4 separate regions of the Homo sapiens genome follow, and all the other regions are reported to be linked to region 1. The links are microRNA targets in miRTarBase. Many come from high-throughput screens and were not tested one by one. Region 1 holds a microRNA gene; each other region holds the end of a gene's coding sequence.
The links. The annotated mature microRNA hsa-miR-5580-3p reads CACAUAUGAAGUGAGCCAGCAC and lies in region 1 at 2,001-2,022, shown strand. An mRNA with a match to its seed (bases 2 to 7 or 8) in the 3' UTR can be bound and repressed. Matches are read on the target gene's strand: a 7mer-m8 pairs with bases 2 to 8, a 7mer-A1 pairs with bases 2 to 7 and ends in A, and an 8mer does both.

Region 2: the mRNA of DDX4 is a reported target of hsa-miR-5580-3p. The part of its 3' UTR that is shown has no 7-base or 8-base seed match.
Region 3: the mRNA of C1orf216 is a reported target of hsa-miR-5580-3p. Seed matches in the 3' UTR shown: 7mer-A1 at 2,841-2,847 and 7mer-m8 at 2,622-2,628.
Region 4: the mRNA of UBR2 is a reported target of hsa-miR-5580-3p. Seed matches in the 3' UTR shown: 7mer-m8 at 756-762 and 8mer at 336-343.

Annotation. Positions count from the first base shown.
Region 1 is chr14:53,947,218-53,950,448 of GRCh38, reverse strand. It overlaps MIR5580 (microRNA 5580), which reads left to right and starts at 1,965; the gene lies at 1,965-2,022. BMP4 (bone morphogenetic protein 4) reads left to right here. Exons shown (of 4, transcript NM_001202.6): 4 at 1-713. The coding sequence ends at 417.
Region 2 is chr5:55,816,350-55,819,349 of GRCh38, forward strand. It overlaps DDX4 (DEAD-box helicase 4), which reads left to right. Exons shown (of 22, transcript NM_024415.3): 22 at 114-808. The coding sequence ends at 191. Among named protein-coding and RNA genes, the nearest start is that of IL31RA, 34 kb to the right of the region's middle.
Region 3 is chr1:35,712,757-35,715,987 of GRCh38, forward strand. It overlaps C1orf216 (chromosome 1 open reading frame 216), which reads right to left. Exons shown (of 2, transcript NM_152374.2): 2 at 1,121-3,231. The coding sequence ends at 2,876. Among named protein-coding and RNA genes, the nearest start is that of C1orf216, 4.5 kb to the right of the region's middle. RefSeq lists an enhancer at 2,752-3,046.
Region 4 is chr6:42,690,565-42,693,795 of GRCh38, reverse strand. UBR2 (ubiquitin protein ligase E3 component n-recognin 2) reads right to left here. Exons shown (of 47, transcript NM_001363705.2): 47 at 291-2,764. The coding sequence ends at 2,623. Among named protein-coding and RNA genes, the nearest start is that of PRPH2, 30 kb to the left of the region's middle.

The sequences.
Region 1 (3,231 bases):
CTCCTGGTCACCTTTGGCCATGATGGCCGGGGCCATGCCTTGACCCGACGCCGGAGGGCCAAGCGTAGCCCTAAGCATCACTCACAGCGGGCCAGGAAGAAGAATAAGAACTGCCGGCGCCACTCGCTCTATGTGGACTTCAGCGATGTGGGCTGGAATGACTGGATTGTGGCCCCACCAGGCTACCAGGCCTTCTACTGCCATGGGGACTGCCCCTTTCCACTGGCTGACCACCTCAACTCAACCAACCATGCCATTGTGCAGACCCTGGTCAATTCTGTCAATTCCAGTATCCCCAAAGCCTGTTGTGTGCCCACTGAACTGAGTGCCATCTCCATGCTGTACCTGGATGAGTATGATAAGGTGGTACTGAAAAATTATCAGGAGATGGTAGTAGAGGGATGTGGGTGCCGCTGAGATCAGGCAGTCCTTGAGGATAGACAGATATACACACCACACACACACACCACATACACCACACACACACGTTCCCATCCACTCACCCACACACTACACAGACTGCTTCCTTATAGCTGGACTTTTATTTAAAAAAAAAAAAAAAAAAGGAAAAAATCCCTAAACATTCACCTTGACCTTATTTATGACTTTACGTGCAAATGTTTTGACCATATTGATCATATATTTTGACAAAATATATTTATAACTACGTATTAAAAGAAAAAAATAAAATGAGTCATTATTTTAAAGGTAAATCATGATTTTTTTTTTCTCCTTAATCCTTTCTCTTTTCCTTCGGGCTCATCTCTTTTGAATGAGGCTTTTTTCTGTTCAGGTGAGTTGGAGGCTGGATGGAAGTCAAAAGGTGGTACCTGGAGGTGGTTAAGTTGTAGGGACAGGAAGTAAACTGTTGGCAGAGAGAGATGGTAATTGCCAGCATGAATTGTTTTCTATTTCTATTTAATGTTAACAAGGATGCAGTATCCTCTCCCATCTGGATGACACATGCCTTGGAGAAACACTGGGATGAAAGGAGTGTAGGTCAGATTAAAGACTTCATTTCAGGCCCCTTGTACATCTTCTGTTTCACTCACCTGTTGAGGTGTATCACAGCTGAGCGTGATGAGGTCTCAACCCTAGAAAAATGATACCCACCTCTGCTTTCATGATACCTCAGGGTATCTCCAGTTATTACAGGTACCAATGTGATATTTCCAAATCAAAACTAATTTGTACACTAACATCATAATGTGTGTGTGAAGGCATGTTTTTAAACTTATTTTTTTTTTCTCCAGGTAGGACTCTTTTGTTTTTTCTTTTGTCTTTTTTTTTTTTTGAAACAAGTTCTCTCTTTGTTGCCCCAGGCTGGTCTTGAACTCCTGGGCTCAAGCAATCTTCTCATTTCGGCCTCTTTGGGATTACAGGCATGCACTGCTATTTTGTCTTTTTTTTTTTTTTTTGTAACAAATAATGTACCCTACCTTCAAAAAGTTTGATGACTACTGTTTTAATATGCCACTTGATAGAATTTCCCATTGTTTCTTGACTTTTTCCCTTGTCCTCTTTTCCCAATGTGAAGGCCTTCATCAAGTTTAGGATCCCAACAGATTGGGCTGGGTGGGGGTTGACAATGGGGTCAGATACTAAAGGGTCAGAATTTCTAAGCAGGCACTGTGAAGGTGTCCCACTATTATACAGAAATCTCGAGTCAAATGTCAACTCTCCTTTTCGCTCTGTACTGCCTCCCTCACACCCTCTTCCCTGGACTTGGGCAGAAAGAGGTAGATCTGATGTTCTGTGCTAGGGTTTCTTAAAGGGAAAAGCTCAATTTTTGGACAAAGTTAATAAAAAGGAGGATGCTAATGTACCCTCAGTTAAGGGCTCCCAGCAGGCAGATAAATGCCTTTCTGGAATGACGGGTGTAGGGATTAAGAGGAGCAGAGGAGAGGCCTTTGCTTTTTCTTACTTGCCACCAACAACTAAATTAAGCCTTGAATCTTGGTCTGTGCTGGCTCATTTCATATGTGTGCTGAGAAAATTCACACATATGAAGTGAGCCAGCACAGACCAAGATCCCTTTGGATCCCTTTGGAGCAGAAACATTTAGTGTCTTTGTATGTTCTCTGTGGGGAAGGCTGATAGCGCATTTCTCCATCATGAAGGTGTAGATATGAGCGGTAGTATTGCTGTTGCTGGTGGTGTGTGCACCCAAAGAATGTGTGTGGTGCACACTCCTGGCGTTTGCATTTTTCTAGGTGGGGTGTGCACCCTTGCATTCTTGTACACACTTTCTTACATACGCTCCTGGGAGTGGAGTGGGTGAAGCAGGATTCATTTTTGTTTTTAATTACTGAAGTCCTACACTCCTCCAAAAGGAGCAGCTTAGTGGAAACCAATAAAAATTGAAGCGGGGTGGTTGCCAAAACCCCAGCTCCCCGGAGAGCGCAGGTGGAGAGAAGACATCAGAGCCCCAGGCAAAGGCAGCAAGACTACACAGTTCCTCCAAAACTCCCCGCAAAAAGGGATCCTTCCCCCACCCCTCCAACCCCCCAGGTCGCTGCCCCTTTGATTAATGGTATGGAGCTCAAATAAATCATTTAGGGAAGCCCCTTATAGATTGCCCTCAGGCAGCCTCATTTTGTTTTGCCCAATTTCTAGCAACTTTCTGAAACGTCGATGTCATTGAAAAGGAACCAGTAGATCTCCAGTACTTGAACAAATTATCCTAGGGCCAGTACTGAGCCCTGTGGCTGTCCAGTTCTAGCAACCAGCCCCTTCCTCCATCCTCCCCGCTCCTACTGGCTTATTTTCAGGAATGGATAATGTTGTTTATTTGTTCAGCCAAATATTTGGTCTGGGGAATTTACCGTGAAATTCTGTGAATTGCATATACCTAGTTAACAAAATAGTCCTAATGCCACAAATGTTAGCATGGAAAACAAAGAGCTATGGCCAGCGTTAACTCTTTAAATTCTGTTTGAAAGCTTAGTCCTGAGACCCGGGGAGATTAAAAAAAAAATAAAAAAAATTGGATGTGTGTGATTTAGGTTTCGGCATTTACTATTTTTGCCTAATATTCAGTTCAGTACCTGACGGAAGTCGTAGGGTGATTCTCGGCGTTGCTTTTGGATCAAGCCTACCATTTCACCCCATTCATGTTTTTTTTTTTTTTTTTTCTCCAGAGTAATGTTCCTATTACTGAAAGAAAGATGGGGAGGGAAGCTCGCCCTTGAGGAGTTCGGCAAAGTCGTAACCACATCAGAGGAGCTGCTT
Region 2 (3,000 bases), not on the chromosome of region 1:
GACATGGTAGATACTTTGAGTCCTTGCTCTCAGTCTGAGTGATGTAACTTTAAAGCTGTCATAAAATTAAATGTTTGTTTGTTTCTTTTTTTTTTTTTTTAAATAATTACCAGGGCAAGAGCACTTTGAACACAGCTGGGTTTTCTTCTTCACAAGCTCCCAATCCAGTAGATGATGAGTCATGGGATTAAAGCCAAAACATCCTTCAAGTCTGTGGTTTTGATGCAGAGAAGAAAATAGTTTTGATTTTTGAGTTTTTAACAGAAGTATAAAACTTAACATTCTCATAGCTCCTGTCCTTGTATTCTCACTCCTACACTTAAAAAAAAAATCCTTACTGACTAGTTATGTGAGATGCTAAAACTTACAACATTGCAGTTACTGATACAAATGGTGTTAACTGGGAATATTAAAGCATTCTAAATGTCTTTCTTATTTCTGGTATATTCTTTAGGGGGCTTAGACATGTTTAATGTTTAAATGCCAAGTCTTACTATAGTGTTTATTGATCTTATAAAACAAGCAAATAGGATATGATACACTTTTGGTTAAAAATTACTGGGTCTCATTTTTACTTGAGTCTTTAAAACAGTAGTGTGTCACTATAATGTGATAATCTTTAAGAGAAAGTAGAATACTTAAGCCTTTCAAAGTGATTTTGATTTTTAGATCATCAGATGTATGATGAAAATGGTTAAATGTTTGTGATGGGAGCTCTGTACTCAATGGCATAACAATGTTTATTTTTATAATATACAATCTTTCCTTGAAATAAAGGATGAAACACTTTTCCCTTAAGTTTTCCATCAGCACTTTAAATTTTTCTTTGTTGCATATCCTAGCCCAAACTCCTATATTTTTGAAACTGTTTTTTTGTGTCTTGCGTAACCAGTGCAGTGAACAAAGTCTTACATAAATTAAATATTAATGTATAAACATTACTGCACAGATGTGGCAATGAAAATCAATCTTAGAACTCAAACCCGTTTATCAACAAAAAACAATGCTGCTTACTCTTTCCATAAGTTTTTGATTCATATTTTAAGATTGATGAAAGAACCCTGTCTTTCTTCATTTTCCATTATATATCTTGAACTTACTATGCCTAGAATAATGAAGTTCTTTTTTTTTTTGAGACGGAGTCTTGCTCTTGTTGCTAAGGCTGGAGTGTAATGGCGTGATCTTGGCTCACTGCAACCTCTGCCTCCCGGGTTCAAGCAGTTCTCCTGCCTCAGCCTCTCCCGAGTAGCTGGGATTACAGACACGCGCCACAATGCCCAGCTAATTTTTAGTAGAGACGGGTTTCACTATGTTGGCCAGCCTGGTCTCGAACTCCTGACCTCGTGATCCGCCCGCCTCCACCTCTCAAAGTGCTGGGATTACACGCGTGAGCCACCGCACCCAGCCCGAAGTTATTAATTAATTGTTAAATGAACGAACCCAAATATTTAAGACCCAGTGAGGTGTAAATACTGGGGAGACAAAAATGATTGGTATTAAGTGTTACTGTTCACCTAAACAATCCAAAGTGACATGTCCCTGATGTATATCTTGTTATAGGAATTTAGTTAATAAATGAGGCATCACATATGAAAAAGGAAGGCATATCAACAGATAGTGTTAGAATAACTGGGTAGATGCCTACCTCATGCCATATTTAAAATTAACTTCATGTGAATTATAAAATATTAAAGCTAATAGTTAAATATTAACCCTTTGAAGGGTTGACTTTAAGCTAAGGAACAGAAATCAAAAAAGAAACAACAGATTTGATCACTCAAGGAAAGATTAGTTGCCTACATAAAAAATAGTGAAAAGTAGACAAGGAAAAATATTACTGTGACCACAGTGGTTATCAGTGTTCTTTATATGTGGATATACTAATAGAAGAATACAAAGAACATAGAAACTCAAAAAGGGCACCAGCATGGCACATGTATACATATGTAACAAACCTGCATGTTGTGCACATGTACTCTAGAACTTCGAGTATAATAATAAAAAGAAAAAATGTTGACAACAAGAAAAACTCAAAAAGGGAAGTTCAATTAATAAAAATATGGGACATATTTCACTTTTCTTCTGTTATCTCACTTCTGGGAAAGGCTAAATGAATGAAGGTGTTTGGATTGTTATTTGTAATATCTGTATGTCTTAATTTTCTAGTTTCGTTTAGGAAGAGTATAGGCCAGTCTTGTCTCATTTTTTTCATTGCTTTTTTTTTTTTTAACAGATTGCTCCCTCTGAACTGATTCCTTTTAAGCTTTTGCTTGATTTGTCAGATTACCATAGTAGCATTACTGAATCAAATATAAAAAAGGAAAGGAAATGTATCATACATCTACCACCATTACAGATGAACTGTAAATGTCCCTATGTTTAATTACTCTCCTCATTTCTAGGTATAGGTTTGAATCATCTCTTTAAAAATTATCAAAGTAACATGCATAAATTAGAAAAGAAAATGCCATAGAAGCATTTATAATAGAAAGCAATATTTTTCTGCCCCTCCCCTTCCAAATTGCCATTCCACATCCAACAATCAGCTATTATTAACAATTTCTGTTCACTGCCATCATATACAGGTTGAGTATCCCTTATCTGAAATGCTCGGGACCAGAAATGTTTCAGATATCAGATTTTTTTTTGGATTTTGGAATATTTGCATAATATATAATGAGAGATCTTGGAGATGGGACCCAAGCCTAAACATGAAATTCATTTGTTTCATTATACCTCATATACAACTTGAAGATAAGTTTTGATATTTTAAGTAATTTTGTGCATGAAACAAAGTTTGTGTACCTTGAGCTGTCTGAAAACTAAGGTGTCACTATCTTAGTCACATGTGGACAATCTGAGGCATCACATTGGTGCTCAAGGTTTCAGGTTTAGGAGCATTTGGGATTTTGAATTTTTGGATTAGGGATGCTCAACCTGTATTTTTATGTCACCAACCAGAACGTCTGTTGACTTTGATATATGAAGATTTAACTCACA
Region 3 (3,231 bases), not on the chromosome of region 1:
GGCGCAGTGGCTCACACCTGTAATCCCAGCACTTTGGGAGGCTCAGGTGGGAGGATGGCTTGAAGCCAGGAGTTTGAGACCAGCCTGGGCAATATAGCAAGAAGCCATCACTACAAAAAACTTAAGAATTAGCTGGGTGTGGTGGTGTGTGCCTGTAGTCCCAGCTACTCAGAGGCTAAGGTGGGAGGATCACTTGAGCCCAGAAGTTCAAGGGTACAGTGAGCTATGATTGCACCACTATGCTCTAGCTTGGGCGTATCTTGGAGACGCTGTCTCCAAAAATAAAGAATCAAATCAAATAAAAATAAAATACAGTATTTCAGATTTGTGAATTTTGGTATCCCTGGGGATCCTGGAACCAATCCCCTCAGATAACAAAGGATGACTGTATATTATAACTACATGTGTGTCAAAACCATCTAAGGACCCGAAATCATAGTCATAGTCAGAGCGCCCTTCAGGGAAGTGATGACACCAGGGTACTTGGTGTTTTATTTTTTGTTTTATTTGGTTTTTTGAGATGGAGTTTCCCTCTTGTTGCCCGGACTGGAATGCAGTGGCACGATCTCTGCCCACTGCAACCTCTGCCTCCCAGGTTCAAGCGACTCTCCTGCCTCAGCCTACTGAGTAGCTGGGATTACAGGCACCCGTCCCCACGTCTGGCTAATTTTTGTATTTTTAGTAGAGACAGGCACCATGTTGGCCAGGCTGGTCTTGAACTCCTGACCTCAGGTGATCCACCCATCTCAGCCTCCCAAAGTGCTAGGATTACAGGTGTGAGCCACCGTGCCCTGCCCAGGGTACAGTTGAGTATGTACGAGTGTGTATGGTATGTGTCCCTCGCAATTCATTTAGGCCCAAAGGTGACACAGGACAAGGACAATCCCATATGGGGCTCTCAGGGTAGAAGTCAAGTCTCCCCTGTCACACTGGATGGCCCCTGAGAGACTTCTCCACCCCATTGGATCGCCAGGCACAGCAGTCTAAATTCTTCAGTGTCTTTCCCCAAAACCACCTCCCTAGCTCCTAGTCCAGGACCCTACTCAAAAGGGGAGCTCAGATGGTATGAAAAAGAGGCCATCAGACAACAGGTAGAAGAAAAACACATACTCAAGAAATGTAATTTTCTGCCCCAGTTTATTCATCTTGGGTTGGTCCAGAAGCCGGGTTTATACACTCAATATGCAAGAGCTACAGACAAAAAGTCTTCAGGGCCCACCCCTCACCCCCACTCTCTGGATCTTTCACCCATCCACCTGTCAGGGATGAAACTCTTTAGAGATAGGAAGAGCCCCCCACTTTGCCGATAGGGAGACTGAGGGCCAGAGGCTGCATCAGTGACTTCCATGCCACTGTTCACCCACCAGTGTCCCCTCTTCATACCACTGCTCACCCACCAGGATCTTGCATTCTCTTGGCTCCCAAGAACAAAGCAGAGAGCTAAGCTACCTTAGTCGTTGGTTCTCTCCAAGACTCACCCACTCTGTAACTCGCGGAGCCTGCCAATCCCTGTTTGAAGGGCCATGCAGTGAAAGAAGGGGTTAAAATTCAGCATCCTAAGCATCTCCAGAGGCTTAGGCTGACACTGTCCCCTTCACATCCCAGAAAGCCAACCTCTGGCTCCTCCTGACAGTCCGACTTCAGAGAAATGAACCAAACCAATTCAACATCCAATGCTGCTAAAGCCAGAGAGGCACAGCAAGGTAGAGGCAGAGACAGGGAAGCGATATTTTCCTCATCGGCCTTGGAACATCTTGTCTGTTACTTGCAAGCTTATAAACATACATTGCTTTTCATCAGAAGCTTAAATGAACACGGTTTGCAACAGCTCCTTTTCCAATGGAGAGATGGTTTGTTTGGGAACTGGTATTTTAGAATTCCCATTCTCCTATTCTTCACAGGGTTCCACTGTTATCATCTTTCCTGTCCCCATCTCCCATGTGCCCAAAGGCAGAGTTCAAGAGGGACAGTCCCCTATGTCCTCTGTCCCCATCCCCACCATCATCTTCATCACTACTCCTGGTTCCCTTTCCTGATACCAGTTCTCCACACACTGCCAAAATTGCAGCCAAAATTCCATGGCAGGCCAGAGCAGCCACTAAACCTCCTACAAGTAAAGCCAACATCAGGGACAATAGCCTCAGCTGAGCAAGTCTGGGTTAAGTGAGGGAAAGGGAAAGGAGAGGTGGCCTGGGAAATCCCAGGAGAATGGGTCAGCCACAACCTTCAGATAAATGACAGCATGCTAGCCCTCTGTCTCCAGGGAACAGTGGGACCCAGTGGAGAAGAAAGGCTGGGGTAGGCCATGAGGAACACAAGGTGTGGGTGGACACCCACAGTGCAGCTGGATATGTATTTGCACACACCTGCTCATGAGTCTGCCTACAAACACACATGCTCCTAACATACACCTCCCATGCCTGTGGCCAAACATGTGCACCCCTGCACACACAAGGGCTTCCTCACATACACCTAATACAAGCCTGCACACTCAAACTCACTCATAGACACACACATCTTCTGCCTATACATCCTCACTCATGCGCATATACACACACTGCTGGGTACCTGTCTACACATGCACATACCGAGTTCCTCATTCTTACATACTACACACACACACATATGTTCACTCTTACATGCTCACATATAGGTCTGCAGATAAATTAGCTGTGTGTACACATGTGCACACAGCACACTTAAGCTCATTTATACATGCTTATTCACACATGCCTACACACACCAGCCTACATGTTAGCACATACACACTCATGCCTACCTGCAATCATGCCAGCAAATTATGTACTTACTAGTGCGCCTCACACATGCCTGCAAATATATACATATACCCTTGCACACTTGTGGAGGCACACCCTTAGGCCTGGTCCTGGGGCCTGGATGGTGCTGCCCTCTGCTGGAGACAGCGAATAAGCTCCTTCCGGTTGTCTAGGATGGTGTCGAAGCTCTCCTGCAGTCGGGCCTGCTGGTCAATCAACTGATGCTGCAGGCCCCGGATCCACTGGAGCAGTGCCAGGCGACGGTACATCACCAAGTGCACGTGGTGCTTTTCCTTCTCCTGCTCTTTGTAGCGCTCCTGGACTTGTAAGTGCTGCACAGCCTGGGCCACTGAGGGCAGAAGGGGATCGGGAGGGCCAGGGCCTCGCGGGGTCCCACAGGCAGGCTCAGGACTGCTGCTACGGCTGTCAATGCTCAGGGAACTGCTGGCATAGC
Region 4 (3,231 bases), not on the chromosome of region 1:
CAGACACAGGTCTTGGAGTGCCCTGTTTCCCAGTGATTTGAGTTCCAAAATGGTCCACAAAGGTCACACGCTGTCATGGCTAATGAATATGAAACTTAATCAGCTGAAATGATGATCACACTTTCTCTGAGAAGGTCAAGATAGTTTGGCTAGTGGCCATAATAATATAACCCTCTTAAATTTAAAGCTAATACAGATATCCCACTATATTTGTAGCAAGGTGACACGGGCACCTTGCTGTGGCAGGTAAATGTGTAAAATGAAACAGAAAGATATATGCTAACCAAAAGTAATGCCAACACCTAAAGCATTTATTTGGATATCTTTAAACTTTTTACATATGATACATTCCAAATTTTACAAGTTGTCCACAGATATTAAAGTTATAGCCAATTTATTAAACAGATATGATTTTCCCTGATATGGAAAGCGTATGTTATATAAACATTTCTACAATAAACATAAAACATGCGGAACAAATCATAAAACTAACATGATTTGTAAGGTAGGAAAGACAACTAGCTTAACACCAGAAAATAAAAAGGTGTGTATGTTGCAATTTCATGTAAATTCATCTTCTCCCAGGCTCTGTGATATTCTCAGAGAATGAAATCCAGAGACAACCTTTGCTAACTCCAGGCTCCTAGGAAGTCGGACCGGAAAGCTGGAGTATTGTTATGATTTGGTGAAAATGTTTATAATCCACTTGTACAGAGAGAAACCTGGTCTTATTATTTTAAATTTTAGCTTGGTGAACATATGAAAAAAAGCCAAAAGAAGCTTACCTTAAAAGCTAAAGAAACTGGATGTGACAGAGGCCAAAATAAACATGAATTATGCCACCTACAGCCCAAACAACCAGATCTTATGAATGAAGGCCAGAAAAAGGGGGAGAGAGGTGGACTCAAATGTGAATTTTCTTTCTATTGGTCCTCCTCTCAGCTGGGTGAGTCAGTCCCACGCAAGAATGGCGACGGTCATCCTCCTGTCAAGAGGGGGCGGTTCTTTCACACACTACCTTGGAGAGGAATGTGGCTTCTACATCCTCACTTCTTTTAGCTTCAGTTCCAGATTTCTGACCTTCTTCCTGTGATACTGTGGAGCATGCCTAGTTGACTGGTAGCTGAGTGGAACAAAACTTGTAGATGTAATTCAAAGAAAACTGATTGAAAGGGTCAGTTGCATTGGTTAAAAAAATCCAAGAGCCTCTTATTACTCATCTGTTCCTTAGCCCCACCTTAGACAGGCTCAGAATTTATTCCTCTACTAAGTCTTCAGTCACTCTCTGCATGTATTCAAGCTCTCAGCAGTCATACATCAAACAATAGTAGTTGTGTGGTACATAATAATTATAAGCTATTTTGTAAGTGGCTCTTGTTCTAGGAAGGCACCTCAGTAAGAACAATGATCAAAAAGAATAAAAAGCCTGGGTGCCAGACCATCCCAGGAATGCACTAAGTGAGCCAGCAAGGAAGCAGCAGCTTGTCTGTTCCAGGAAATGCTGGCTGGGTGGGAGTGGGTTCTCACCTTCTTCAGTGTTTGGCTTTAGATGATATACTCTGCCAATTTAGCCTTAGAAATAACAAGAGAATATCACTGTCTGAAACATTAGGGTATTCTAAAAGAATACAGATAAGAAAATTAGGATACTCTTTTAGAATACCTATTATTTTAAACTTAAGCTTGGTGAACATCTGAAAAAAAGCCAAAAGAAGCTTACCTTAAAAGCTCAAGAAACTGGATGTGACAGAGGCCAAAATAAATATCACTTATGCCAACCACAGCCCAAACAACCAGATCTTATGAAGGAAGGCCTCTCATCTAGATATTAGGATATCTAAAAGAATATCCTAAATTTTTAATCCATATTCTTTTAGAATATCCTAATTTTTCTTCCTAATTCTAAAAGAATATCCTAATTTTTTAGACCATCCTAAGTTTTTGGAAAGCCCTCTAAGTGAGTTTTCTCAAAGCCAAAAGTCTTGCCATAAAAAAAAAAAGAAAAAAAAAAAACCTCTAACAGCCCTGAAAAACCAGCCAGCACACCAGGAATCCACCTTCTCCCCACGGGCTTCTTCTGCATGTGTGTCCCCCAACTCTCTCATAGTCAATGGAGAGAAGGGAACACTGCCTTCAAAATCAACCACTTTGCTCCTAGGAGTAGGGTCCTGTCAGCAGAGGGGACACCAACCCAGTCCCAGTGTTGGGCCACTCAGTGGAACCAGGAAGTATGACCCAACAGACCACAGAGACTTTGTTCCCTGCCTCCGTTGAGTCAGCTTCGGACCCACGGTTCACTATCATCAATAACGTGAAATATCACATAATGGCTGGGACTATGCAGTCAGACCCCCACAAAGGGGCTGGGATCCAATCTAGGAAGAGAAGCTCCTTGCTCGATCTTAAAACCCAAGACATTATATTTGAGGGGCACAGCAAACAGTGCAAGAAAATCTGCTGATGGAAGATGATTTTCATCAGTCCTCAGAACCAGAAACTATAAAACTGGGAAGGAAAGTTTAAATAAAGAATTTATTTCCAAATTCAGCAGAACTTCTTTCTTTCTTAAAAAGCCAACTGGGTTAAAAAAATCCAAGTTTGTGTTTTTTGGTGGTGCAATAATTATAAATGTTGCCAGTCAATGCCAACCAGTGTCTGATTGGCTTCCTGTGCATGTCCAATTTCCTCTGTGACACTGTGTTGGTGCCAGAGCTTCTGAATCTTCTTGAATCGCTCTTTGCATAAATGTAAAGGATTTCCCCGTCTAGAAAGAGAAGACACATGTCACTCAGAATGTGTTCTGTTTATTCCTCTATTATAACCCAACCCTTCCTGATTTAGGCAAGGTTACAAGTTATTGGTTTTAGACTCCCTGCAACATTTCTGTCTGGCAGGTGACTGTGGCTATTAACAAAAACATCAGCTCTGACCCTTTGCCAAGAGCAGGTAAAAGGGAATAAGTGCTGAAATGAGGAAGGAAAGGTACACAAACCAGACTTACCCAGAGTGAGGTGAGGGAATAGAGGTTGCGGGGGATAAGGAGGGTCTGGGTTGAGAGGCTAAAACTACCAATTCATTGCCCATTTTGTTGGTAACGTGTAAAAAGGGAAGAGGGCAGAGGAGAACACAAAAGAAGAATTATAGGAGTAAAAATATTCCTCACAGATTTTACTAAGAGTGCAAAGAAAAAAGAAAAGAAAAGAAAAGAAAAACATTCCTCAGATGCAATCT